Homo sapiens: one gene and its partners. The protein of the gene in region 2 purifies or fractionates together with the protein of the main gene of each other region. This does not show direct contact. Each region holds a gene or a part of one and is shown on either strand. Other genes may lie near its edges.

Region 1 (2,589 bases), on a different chromosome or scaffold from region 2:
CTTGTCCCATAATCAGGAATAAACAGTAGCTACACTGCCTTGTATGGCAGCCAGAGCGCTGCTTGCTTGCACTTTTAATGATTCCATCAATACCATGTAGATTGAATTAGCAAGGAGAAGTAAACCTTTCATTTCTTTGCCAGACTATATTGGGAAATGAAAATCCGTCATTACTTTTCCTTGCTAGCAATTGTTCGAATATCTGGGATAAAGAAATACATACAGGAAAATGTTAGGGCAGACCAAGTATTAAAAGCTAGGACAGAGCAGGACAAAGGAGGAAGGATAATTCTACTTGTTTGGCAAAGTTACATCAGTTGTCTTACTGACACATCAGGTACTATCTATAGTGGAAATTGAGGCCCGGAGAGGTTAAATGGCATGCCAGTGTCACTTGCTATTTTTCAGAACAAAAATTAGAATCCAGATCTGAATCCTGGTGCAGTGTTCTCTCCTATGCCCTACTGGGCTTTAGTGGGCTAAAGTTCTGAAGCAAGATGTTAAGGGCTAATTGAAATGTGTTTATTCTCCTAGATTCTTTTTCAGCATAGATGGAATCTGAAAAGCACTCAGATATTTAGTGTGTGCTTCCTTCAGCCCTAAATACAGCATTAGCATCAAATCAAGGGTACATTTGTAATAAACCTCAGCAAACCTTACCTGAAGAACCTTTTAAGAAAGTACAGATTTCCAGGTCCTATCACTAGAGATGATTTGGTGTATTTGTGATGAGGCATAAGAGGATATTTTCACAAGATTCTCAGGATTCCAGTTCCTGTTCTGAAACCTTTGGAGGTACAACTATATTTAGGCACCACTGCCATAAACTACCAAAAAAAAATGTAATTCCTAGAAGCTGTGAAGAATAGTAGTGTAGCTAAGCACGGTGTGTGGACAGTGGGACATCTGCCACCTGCAGTAGGTCTCTGCACTCCCAAAAGCAAATTACATTGGCTTGAACTTCAGTATGCCCGGTTCCACCCTCCAGAAACTTTTGTGTTCTTTGTATAGAATTTAGGAACTTCTGAGGGCCACAAATACACACATTAAAAAAGGTAGAATTTTTGAAGATAAGATTCTTCTAAAAAAGCTTCCCAATGCTTGAGTAGAAAGTATCAGTAGAGGTATCAAGGGAGGAGAGACTAGGTGACCACTAAACTCCTTCAGACTCTTAAAATTACGATTCTTTTCTCAAAGGGGAAGAACGTCAGTGCAGCGATCCCTTCACCTTTAGTTAAAGAATTGGACTGTGCTGCTCAAAATAAAGATCAGTTGGAGGTAGGATGTCCAAGACTGAAGGTAAAGGACTAGTGCAAACTGAAAGTGATGGGGAAACAGACCTACGTATGGAAGCCATGTAGTGTTCTTCACAGGCTGCTGTTGACTGAAATTCCTATCCTCAAATTACTCTAGACTGAAGCTGCTTCCCTTCAGTGAGCAGCCTCTCCTCCCAGGATTCTGGAAAGCACACCTGACTCCAAACCAAGGACTTAGATGCCCTGTGTCCAGTGCTGCTGCTGCTTTTACCAGTATCTCTTACCCTTCCGGTTAGAAGAAGTAGAGCTGCTGCCCCCCATGATTCTATCACTCCAAACATATCCCCATGGCCAGGTCTTCCACTTGTAGTCCACTTGATTGTCATATTCATTGCCTTATTTTCCACGAGGAAAATACTTTTACCCATAGTAAAAGCCAAAGACACATATAAAAATAAGATTTTCCTCTTTACTCTCGTCCTTACATGTCCACAGACTTCATGTAGAGAGGCTGAGCCTTTCGACCACAAAGTGTGTTCTGTGTTGAAGATGTTATAATGATGGGAGAGGGCAGTTGCAGCAGCTTCTAACCAAGTGTCTACAACACATGTACTACTGTTTCCTACCTGTGTCACCTCTGCAAAAAATGGAGCTCTGAGCCCAGTTCTGTGAGCATGGTGTCAGAGCCCTCCAAAGTCCTGAGAAATCAATACCAGGGATCCAAATCTCAGACACCAGTTTGAAGCAATACCTGGATACCAAGACTCAGAGTGAGGATATGGATTTTGGGAGCTGACAGTTTTGCTGATCCTGCCACACTGGCAGGGGCTGAAGTCCAGAAATGGTGTGTAGCTCTAGTCATTCTTATTCACCACAGCTCTTATTTCACAGTTTTTTCCCTTGGTTTCTTCTGTTTCTTCTGTTCCTCATATTCAAGTATTTTCTGTTGGAAATAGCCTGTGGGTTCAAATACAGGTGTTAGAGGCATCTGATCTGGTCAGGCAGATTATAATGAGCTCAGGAATAAGGATCAGAAATATCCTGTCTGCTCCCCATACTGCCATCCCTGCCAGGATGTCTCTGGCCTCACAGGTTCTGGAGATCCAGACATTCAGTTTTGTCCAAAAAGGAGCCCATAAACAGAGGATACTTAGCAGGAATTAGCTCTAGACTAAAACAGAGGAAAGGGCTCAGTCCTGTTCACTAATGGGTAAACCAACTTCCACAAAATGGCAGCCCATTAGACATTTTCTTAGGTTTCAGGTTATGTCATTTCAACTCCACTAATAAAAGTCTACCTACAGCTATTTTGTGGGTTTCTAAAGAGAAGTAT
Region 2 (3,734 bases):
GAAACATTACTTAGCAATTAAAAGAAATGAGCTATCAGCCATGCATGGTGGCTCACGCCTGTAATCCCAACACTTTGGGAGGCCAAGACAGGAAGATCACTTGAACCTGGGAGTTTGGGATCAGCCTGAGCAACATGGGTAAGACTCCATCTCTACAAAAAAATTTAAAAATTACCAAGGTGTGGTGGCGTGTGCCTATAGTCCCAGCTACTCAAGAGGCTGAGGCAGGAAGACTGCTCAACCTCAGTTCAAGGTTATAGTGAGCTATGACAGCACCACTGCACTCCAGCCTGAGTGAAAGAGTGAGACTTTCTCTAAAAAAAAAAAACAAAAAAAAGAAAGAAATGAAATCCCAGGCCGGGCAACATAGTGAGACTCTGTCTCTACAAAAAATAAAATTAGCCGGGCATGGTGGCACACGCCTGTGGTCCCAGCTACTTGTGAGGCTGAGGTAGGAGGATTACTTGAGCCCTGGAGGTCGGGGTGCAGTGAGCCATTATTGTGCCACTGTCCATGCAACAGAGCGAGAACCTGTCTCAAATAAAAAAAAATTAAAAAAAATTAAAAAAAGGGCCGGGCAGGGTGACTCATGCTGTAATCCCAGCACTTTGGGAGGCTGAGGCGCGCAGATCACGAGGTCAAGAGATCAAGACCATCCTGGCTAACACGGTGAAACCTCGTCTCTACTAAAAATACAAAATAATTAGCCGGGCGCGGTGGCACGTGCCTGTAGTCCCAGCTACTCAGGAGGCTGAGGCAGGAGAATCTCTTGAACCTGGGAGGCAGAGGTTGCAGTGAGCCGAGATAATGCCACTGTACTCTAGCCTGACGACAAGAGCGAGACTCCGTCTCAAAAAAAAAAAAAAAAGGAGGGAAAGAAAAGAAAGAAAAAGAAAAAGGGAAAGGAGAAAGGGAAAGGGAAGAAAGAAAAAAGGCACAGTGGAACCTTAAATGTATATTGCTAAGTGAAAGAAGACAGTCTGAAAAGGCTACATACGCTATAATTCCAACTATATGACATTTTGAAAATGCCAAAACTATATAGACAGTAAAAACATCAGTAGTTGCCAAGAAGTGGGTGTTGGGGGTGGGGATGAACAGGTGGAGCCCAGGGGATTTTTTAGACAGTGAAACTACCTTGAATGATCCTGTAAGGGTAGATATATGCTATCGTACATTTGTCAGTTCCACCGAATGTACAACACAAAGCTTGAATTCTAACGTAAATCATGGATTTTAATTAATAATGTATCAATATTGGCTCATCAATTGTTAACAAATGTGTCACAATAATGCAAGACTGGGGGAAAGAGGGAGGGAGTACTTAGAAACTCTCTGTACTTTATGTTCAGTTTTTCTGTAATTCTAAAATTGCTCTACAAATTGTCTATTAAAAACAAAGCCAAAAAAAGAATCCATGAGACACGGATAATGAACGGATAGATAAGCAGTTAAGAAGGGAGGGCTCAGGCGGGCACAGTGGCTCACACCTGTAATCCCAGCACTTTGGGAGGCCGAGGCAGGCAGATCACCAGGTCAGGAGTTTGAGACAAGCCTGACCAACATGGTGAAACCCTGTCTCTACTAAAAATACAAAAATTAGCTGGGCGTGGTGGCGGGCACCTATAATCCCTGCTACCCAGGAGGCTGAGGCAGGAGAATCGCTTAAACCTGGGAGGCAGAGGTTGCAGTGAGCCAAGATTGCGCCATTGCTCTCCAGCCTGGGTGACAGAGCGAGACTCCATCTCGGAAAAAAAAAAAGAAGGGAGGGCTCTTCCTTACAGTAGAATGCAGGTTGGTAATTGTGGAAAAAGTGGTGGGGGTGGGAAATTACCACTTTGCATAATTACCACTTTGCACTTAGCAGAGTCAAAACTGGTGCAGTCAGGAATCATGAATGGCTGAGAAATTTATGGGGGAAATTTGACAAGGAACAAGACATTTGAAAGATCTCCAAGTGTCTAGCCACAGATTGTCTATTGGAGACACCAGGCAGTGGACTACCATGACCAAGTGACCAAAATTACTCATCTTCCAATGAATATCGTACACCTCCAGATGTGACCTCTGAGGACACAACATCACTCACGTACTATTTCGGCTGTGGGTGCATAACCTGAATCTAATCATGAGGAAAGAGTAGATAAACCTAAATTGAAAAATATTCTATTGGCCGGGCACGGTGGCTCATGCCTGTAATCCCAGCACTTTGGGAGGCCAAGGCAGGAGGATCGCCTGAGGTCGGGAGTTGGAGACCAGCCTGGGCAACACAGTGAAACCCTGTCTCTACTACAATTACAAAAAATTAGCTGGATGTGGTGGCAGGCGCCTGTAATCCCAGCTACTCGGGAGCCTGAGGCAGAAGAATCGCTTGAACCCGGGAGGCAGAGGTTGCAGTGAGCCAAGATCGTGCCATTGCACTCCAGCCTGATAACAGAGCGAGATTCTGTCTCAAAAAAAAAAAAAAAAAAAAAATTAGCCAGGCGTGGGTGGCAGGCACCTATAATCCCAGCTATTTGGGAAGCTGAGGCAGCTGAATCGCTTGAACCTGGGAGGTGGAGGTTGCAGTGAGCCGAGATCATGCCATTGCACTTCAACCTGGGCAACAGAAACTCCGTCTCAAAAAAAAAAAAAGGAAAATATTCTACAAAATAAATGCAACAGATGATAAGTCACGAGCTGGATTCTAGTCTGGAGGAGGAAACAATTATAAAAGATATTATTAGAACAACTGGCAAAATTGGAATATAAACTGTAATTTCTTTTTTCTTTTTTTTGAGACGGAGTCTCGCCCTGTTGCCCAGGCCGGAGTGCAATGGCGCGATCTCGGCTCACAGCAACTTTCGCCTGCTGGGTTCAAGCGATTCTCCTGCCTCAGCCTCCTGAGTATCTAGGATTACAGCCGCATGCCTCTATACCCAGCTAATTTTTGTATTTTTAGTAGAGACGGAGTTTCACCATGTTGGCCAGGCTGGTCTCGAACTCCTGACCTCGTGATCCACCCGCCTCGGCCTCCCAAAGTGCTGGGATTACAGGCGTGAGCCACTGTGCCCGGCCCTATAAACTGTAATTTCTGTCACTTCTAAATTTTCTGATTTTGGTAACTACACTGTGAATACGTACATATTGTTATACACATTGAATACTGCTGCTCTTAGGAAATACACACTGATTAAGAGGTAAAGGGAAATAACAGGCAACTTACTGTCAAATAGTCGAGAAAAAAAATGTGTGTTTATGTGCTTGTATAATCAGAGAGAGAGAAAAAGAGAGAATCATAAAACAGATGTAGCAAAATGTTAAAAATTGGTGAATGTGGGTAAAAGGTATATAGAAGTTCTATGTACTTTTTCCCATAAATTTGAAATTATCTGAAAACAAAAAGTTTTAAAAAGTATGTTAATCTATTTTCTTCTGGCATAAACTTCCAAAGTGTTGCTGTGGAAAAGTCTGATAACAATCTAAATTCATTCCCTTATAAGTAACTTATTCTTTCTGCCCAATTGTTCAACATATCTTTCAAGTGTAGTAATTCTCTTAGAATTTGTCTTGGTGTTGGGTGTTCAGAGTCAATACTCTGAGATACACAGTGTGCTCATTAAAATGTGTATTTTCAATTAATTTTTTTAATTTCAGTAAAGCTTTCTTGAACTATACAGCCTTTACTATTTGTTCATTCAGACAGTTGATGGTAATATAAACTTAAGCCTGGCCAACATAGGGAGATCCTGTCT
Region 3 (3,734 bases), on a different chromosome or scaffold from region 2:
ATGTCTGTTTTAAAAAATAACGGTATGAACCAATTAAATTTTTCTGCCTATACCCCCTGCCCCACACACATTTAAAACATCAAGCTAAGGAACTTAAGACCTAGGAGAAATGAAAAGCTTTGCATGTCCAAAGTTTAGGATCCTTGGGTAACAACTCTGAATAATAACTGTTTAGGCTATATCCTGTCCAGTTGAACTAGTGACCTCTGCTTAGTTAAGGAGTGGTCTGGGGCAGAAGACTGTCTTAATGTATCTCACTAAAAACACTATGGGGCACACGGTGGCTCACGCCTGTAATCCCTGCACTCTGGGAGGCCGAAGCGGGCGAATCACGAGGTCAGGAGTTCAAGACCAGCCCAATGAACATGGTGAAACTCTGTCTCTAATAAAAATACAAAAAATTAGCTGGGTGTAGTGGTGGGCGCCTGTAATCCCAGCTACTCGGGAGGCTGAGGCAGGAGAATCACTTGAACTAGGAGGTGGAGATTGCAGTGAGCCAAGATTACACCACTGCACTCCAGCCCAGGCAACAGAGCGAGACTCCGTCTCAAGAAAAACAAAACAAAACAAAACAAAACAGGGCGGGTGCAGTGGCTCACACCTGTAATCCCAGCACTTTGGGAGGCCGAGGCAGGCAGATCACCTGAGATCAGGAGTTCGAGACCAGCCTGACCAACATGGAGAAACCGTCTCTACTAAAAATACAAAATTAGCCGGACATGGTGGCACATGCCTGTAATCCCAGCCACTCGGGAGGCTGAGGCAGGAGAATCTCTTGAACCCAGGAGGTAGAGGTTGCAGTGAGCCGAGATCGCACCATTGCACTCCAGCCTGGGCAATGAGTGAAACTCCATCTCAAAAACAAACAAACAAAAAAAAAACAGTATGAGTACCTTGGGTAAGAGAAGTCAACTGCTGCAAGGAACTCCCATCTGCAGGATGTTTTGTGCTCCTGGTTGCTGGGCATTAAATGCTAGTAGCAACCCCCACTGTTATTGGGTCAACCAAAAACATTTTTATACATTTCCACTAGACTAAAGACTTAAAAACAAAGGCTCACCTCAGGAACTACATCTGTGATCATCTCACAGATAGTCTCAGGAGAAGGTGCCTCCACTGTATGGGCCTCAGGGCTGTTGTTCATAGGCCGCTCAGGACTACTTTCCACAGTTGGTGGGACTAAGGTAGTCTGCATTTTCAAAGTGGGTAGAGGCACACTCTTGATCTGCAGAGGAGGAGGCTGTTGCTGTAAATTGATTCGAACTTTCTGAGGTGGAGGCTGTTGCATGGCCTGGAGTGGAGGAGGCTGCTGCAGAATGGTAACTTGCTGCTGAGTCGGGGGCTGTGGCATCTGTTGTAATGGAGGGGGCTGTAGTCGGGGTGGAGGCAGTTGCATAGAAGCAGCAGCAGCAGCAGCTGCTGCTGCCTGCAACACTGACCGAGTGACAATCTGGGCTTGTTGACTGGGCTGGATAGTAGCTGTACTGGTTTGGCCTAGTTGGAGCCCCCGGGAGGTCACCACTGTGGCTGGGATAACAGTAACCATCCCTCCTTGAGACATAGTAATAGAAGAGGGCAACATTTGTTTGGTAATAATCAACTTGGTGATATTGGGCTGACCCCCAGCTCCAGAAGATGCCTGGTTTGCCACATAGGATGAAAGGGTGGAGTTAACAACAATGGATGGGGACAGGGCAGGGGGCTCTATTGAAGCTGGTGCTGGAGATGCTGGGTCAACAGTAGCCATAGGAGGTGGAGAAGGAGTTTGTGATGGTGGTGCTGGATCCAATTCCACTGTTTCCACAGTGGCCTAAAAGAAGACATAAATCAATCTATCAATTAATCAATCACTTGGTGGTATTTACTTCTTAAAACTGCTAACAAACACTTCCAAAAAACTTCTTACTGGTTTAAATATTCATTCTATCCTATCCCTCTTACCTGACACTCCTGGTTGTCTTTGTAAGCAGCCAGTGCCTTCAGATACTCTTTCTTGGCAGCCTCAGTTTTCCTCTTATATACCTGCAAAAAAGAGACTTTAAAAAAAAAAACAAAACTCCCCATACTCTTAGGAAAGACTGATAGTTCTGTATTATTTATCAATGAATGACAATTCATCTTAGTCTAATCACTGACAACCTCTATCAGTGAATTCAATTCTGAAAGCTAACAGTCAAGACAACCTCCATGGCAGACTCACTCCACTGAGCATACCTCTGAAAGACAACCAATCGACAGGAGTCTGGCAAGAATAGCTACATTTATTTTATTTTGCTACATTTATTTTATTTTTTTTAAATTTTTTTTGAGACAGAGTCGTGCTCTCTCGCCCAGGCTCGAGTGCAGTGGCGTGATCTTGGCTCATTGCAAGCTCTGCCTCCCAGGTTCATGCCATTCTCCTGCTTCAGCCTCCTGAGTAGCTGGGACTATAGGCACCCGCCACCACGCCCGGCTAATTTTTTGTATTTTTAGTAGAGATGGGGTTTCGCTGTGTTAGCCAGGATGGTCTCGATCTCCTGACCTTGTGATCCGCCTGCCTCTGCCTCCCAAAGTGCTGGGATTACAGGCGTGAGCCACCACGCCTGGCCGAGAATAGCTACATTTAAGGCAAACATCAACCCATGCTCACTTCTGTAACAAAAATAAACCCTAATCTGCCAGGTGCGGTGGCTCACGCCTGTAATCCCAGCACTTTGGGAGGCCAAGGTGGCCAGATCACGAGGTCAGGAGATTGAGACCATCCTGGCTAACCTGGTGAAACCCGATCTCTACTAAAAAAAACAAAAACAAAACTAGCCCGGCGTGGTGATGGGCGCCTATAGTCCAGCTACTCAGGAGGCTGAGGCAGGAGAATGGCGTGAACCTGGGAGATAGAGCTTGCAGTCAACCAAGATTGTGCTACTGCACTCCAGCCTGGGCGACACAGTGAGACTCTGTCTCAAAAAAATAAATAAATAAATACAAAATAAACCCTAATCCAAAAACTGTGTCTTAGCCTGGGACTGTGTCTAACCAGTATATTTTCCCTTATGGAATGTGGTAAATTGTTTGCAAAGATGGCCACAACAACTCCTCCCATATGACCTTTCTCCCTTCAAGAGCTGAAGCCTATTTCCCCCTCCTTTGAATCTGGGCTAGCTCTAAAAAGTTTTTAAACTCTAAATCCAAAAAAGAAAAAGAAAGAAAAAAAATAGGCCAGGTGCGGTGGCTCACACCTGTAATCCCAGCACGTTGGGAGGACAAGGCAGGCGGATCACCTGAGGTCAGGAGTTTGGCACCAGCCTGACCAACACGGTGAAACCCTGTCTCTACTAAAAATACAACATTAGCTGGGTGTGGCGGCACATGCCGGTAATCCCAGCTACTTGGGAGGCTGAGGCAGGAGAATCACTTGAACCCAGGAGGTGGAAGTTGCAGTAAGCTGAGATTGCACCACTGCACTGCAGCCTGGGTAACAGGAGCGAAATTCCATCTCAAAAACAAACAAACAAGTAATTCTAAATCCAAACTTGGTAGTGGATTTGAGAGTTAGCCACAGCATGCAGCTTATCAAGTAATAGCCTAATTTTATAAATGGGGGAAAAAATGAGACTTAGAAAAGTTAAATATCTAAAAATTGAACAGAAGGACACTACATGAGGAATTATAGGAGACATTATTAGTGGAAAGTACATGGGAAGAGTTAAAGAACCTGGATTGTGTCTCAACTTTACCACTTAAATGTTATATGACCT

Evidence for each region.
Region 1: the proteins of PPIL4 (region 2) and DENND2D fractionate together in Homo sapiens (co-fractionation; one large-scale study listed by BioGRID). This does not show direct contact.
Region 3: the proteins of PPIL4 (region 2) and TOX4 purify together in Homo sapiens (affinity purification with mass spectrometry, with the first as the bait; one large-scale study listed by BioGRID). This does not show direct contact.

What each region holds. Positions count from the first base shown.
Region 1 is NC_000001.11:111,185,469-111,188,057, forward strand, and holds the end of DENND2D (DENN domain-containing protein 2D), read right to left. Parts: intron 2,214-2,589; coding exon 2,137-2,213; 3' UTR 501-2,136; downstream 1-500. UniProt on the Homo sapiens protein: Guanine nucleotide exchange factor (GEF) which may activate RAB9A and RAB9B. Promotes the exchange of GDP to GTP, converting inactive GDP-bound Rab proteins into their active GTP-bound form.
Region 2 is NC_000006.12:149,528,911-149,532,644, forward strand, and holds part of PPIL4 (peptidyl-prolyl cis-trans isomerase-like 4), read right to left. Parts: intron 1-3,734. UniProt on the Homo sapiens protein: PPIases accelerate the folding of proteins. It catalyzes the cis-trans isomerization of proline imidic peptide bonds in oligopeptides.
Region 3 is NC_000014.9:21,490,584-21,494,317, reverse strand, and holds part of TOX4 (TOX high mobility group box family member 4), read right to left. Parts: intron 2,023-3,734; coding exon 1,942-2,022; intron 1,811-1,941; coding exon 1,061-1,810; intron 1-1,060. UniProt on the Homo sapiens protein: Transcription factor that modulates cell fate reprogramming from the somatic state to the pluripotent and neuronal fate. In liver, controls the expression of hormone-regulated gluconeogenic genes such as G6PC1 and PCK1.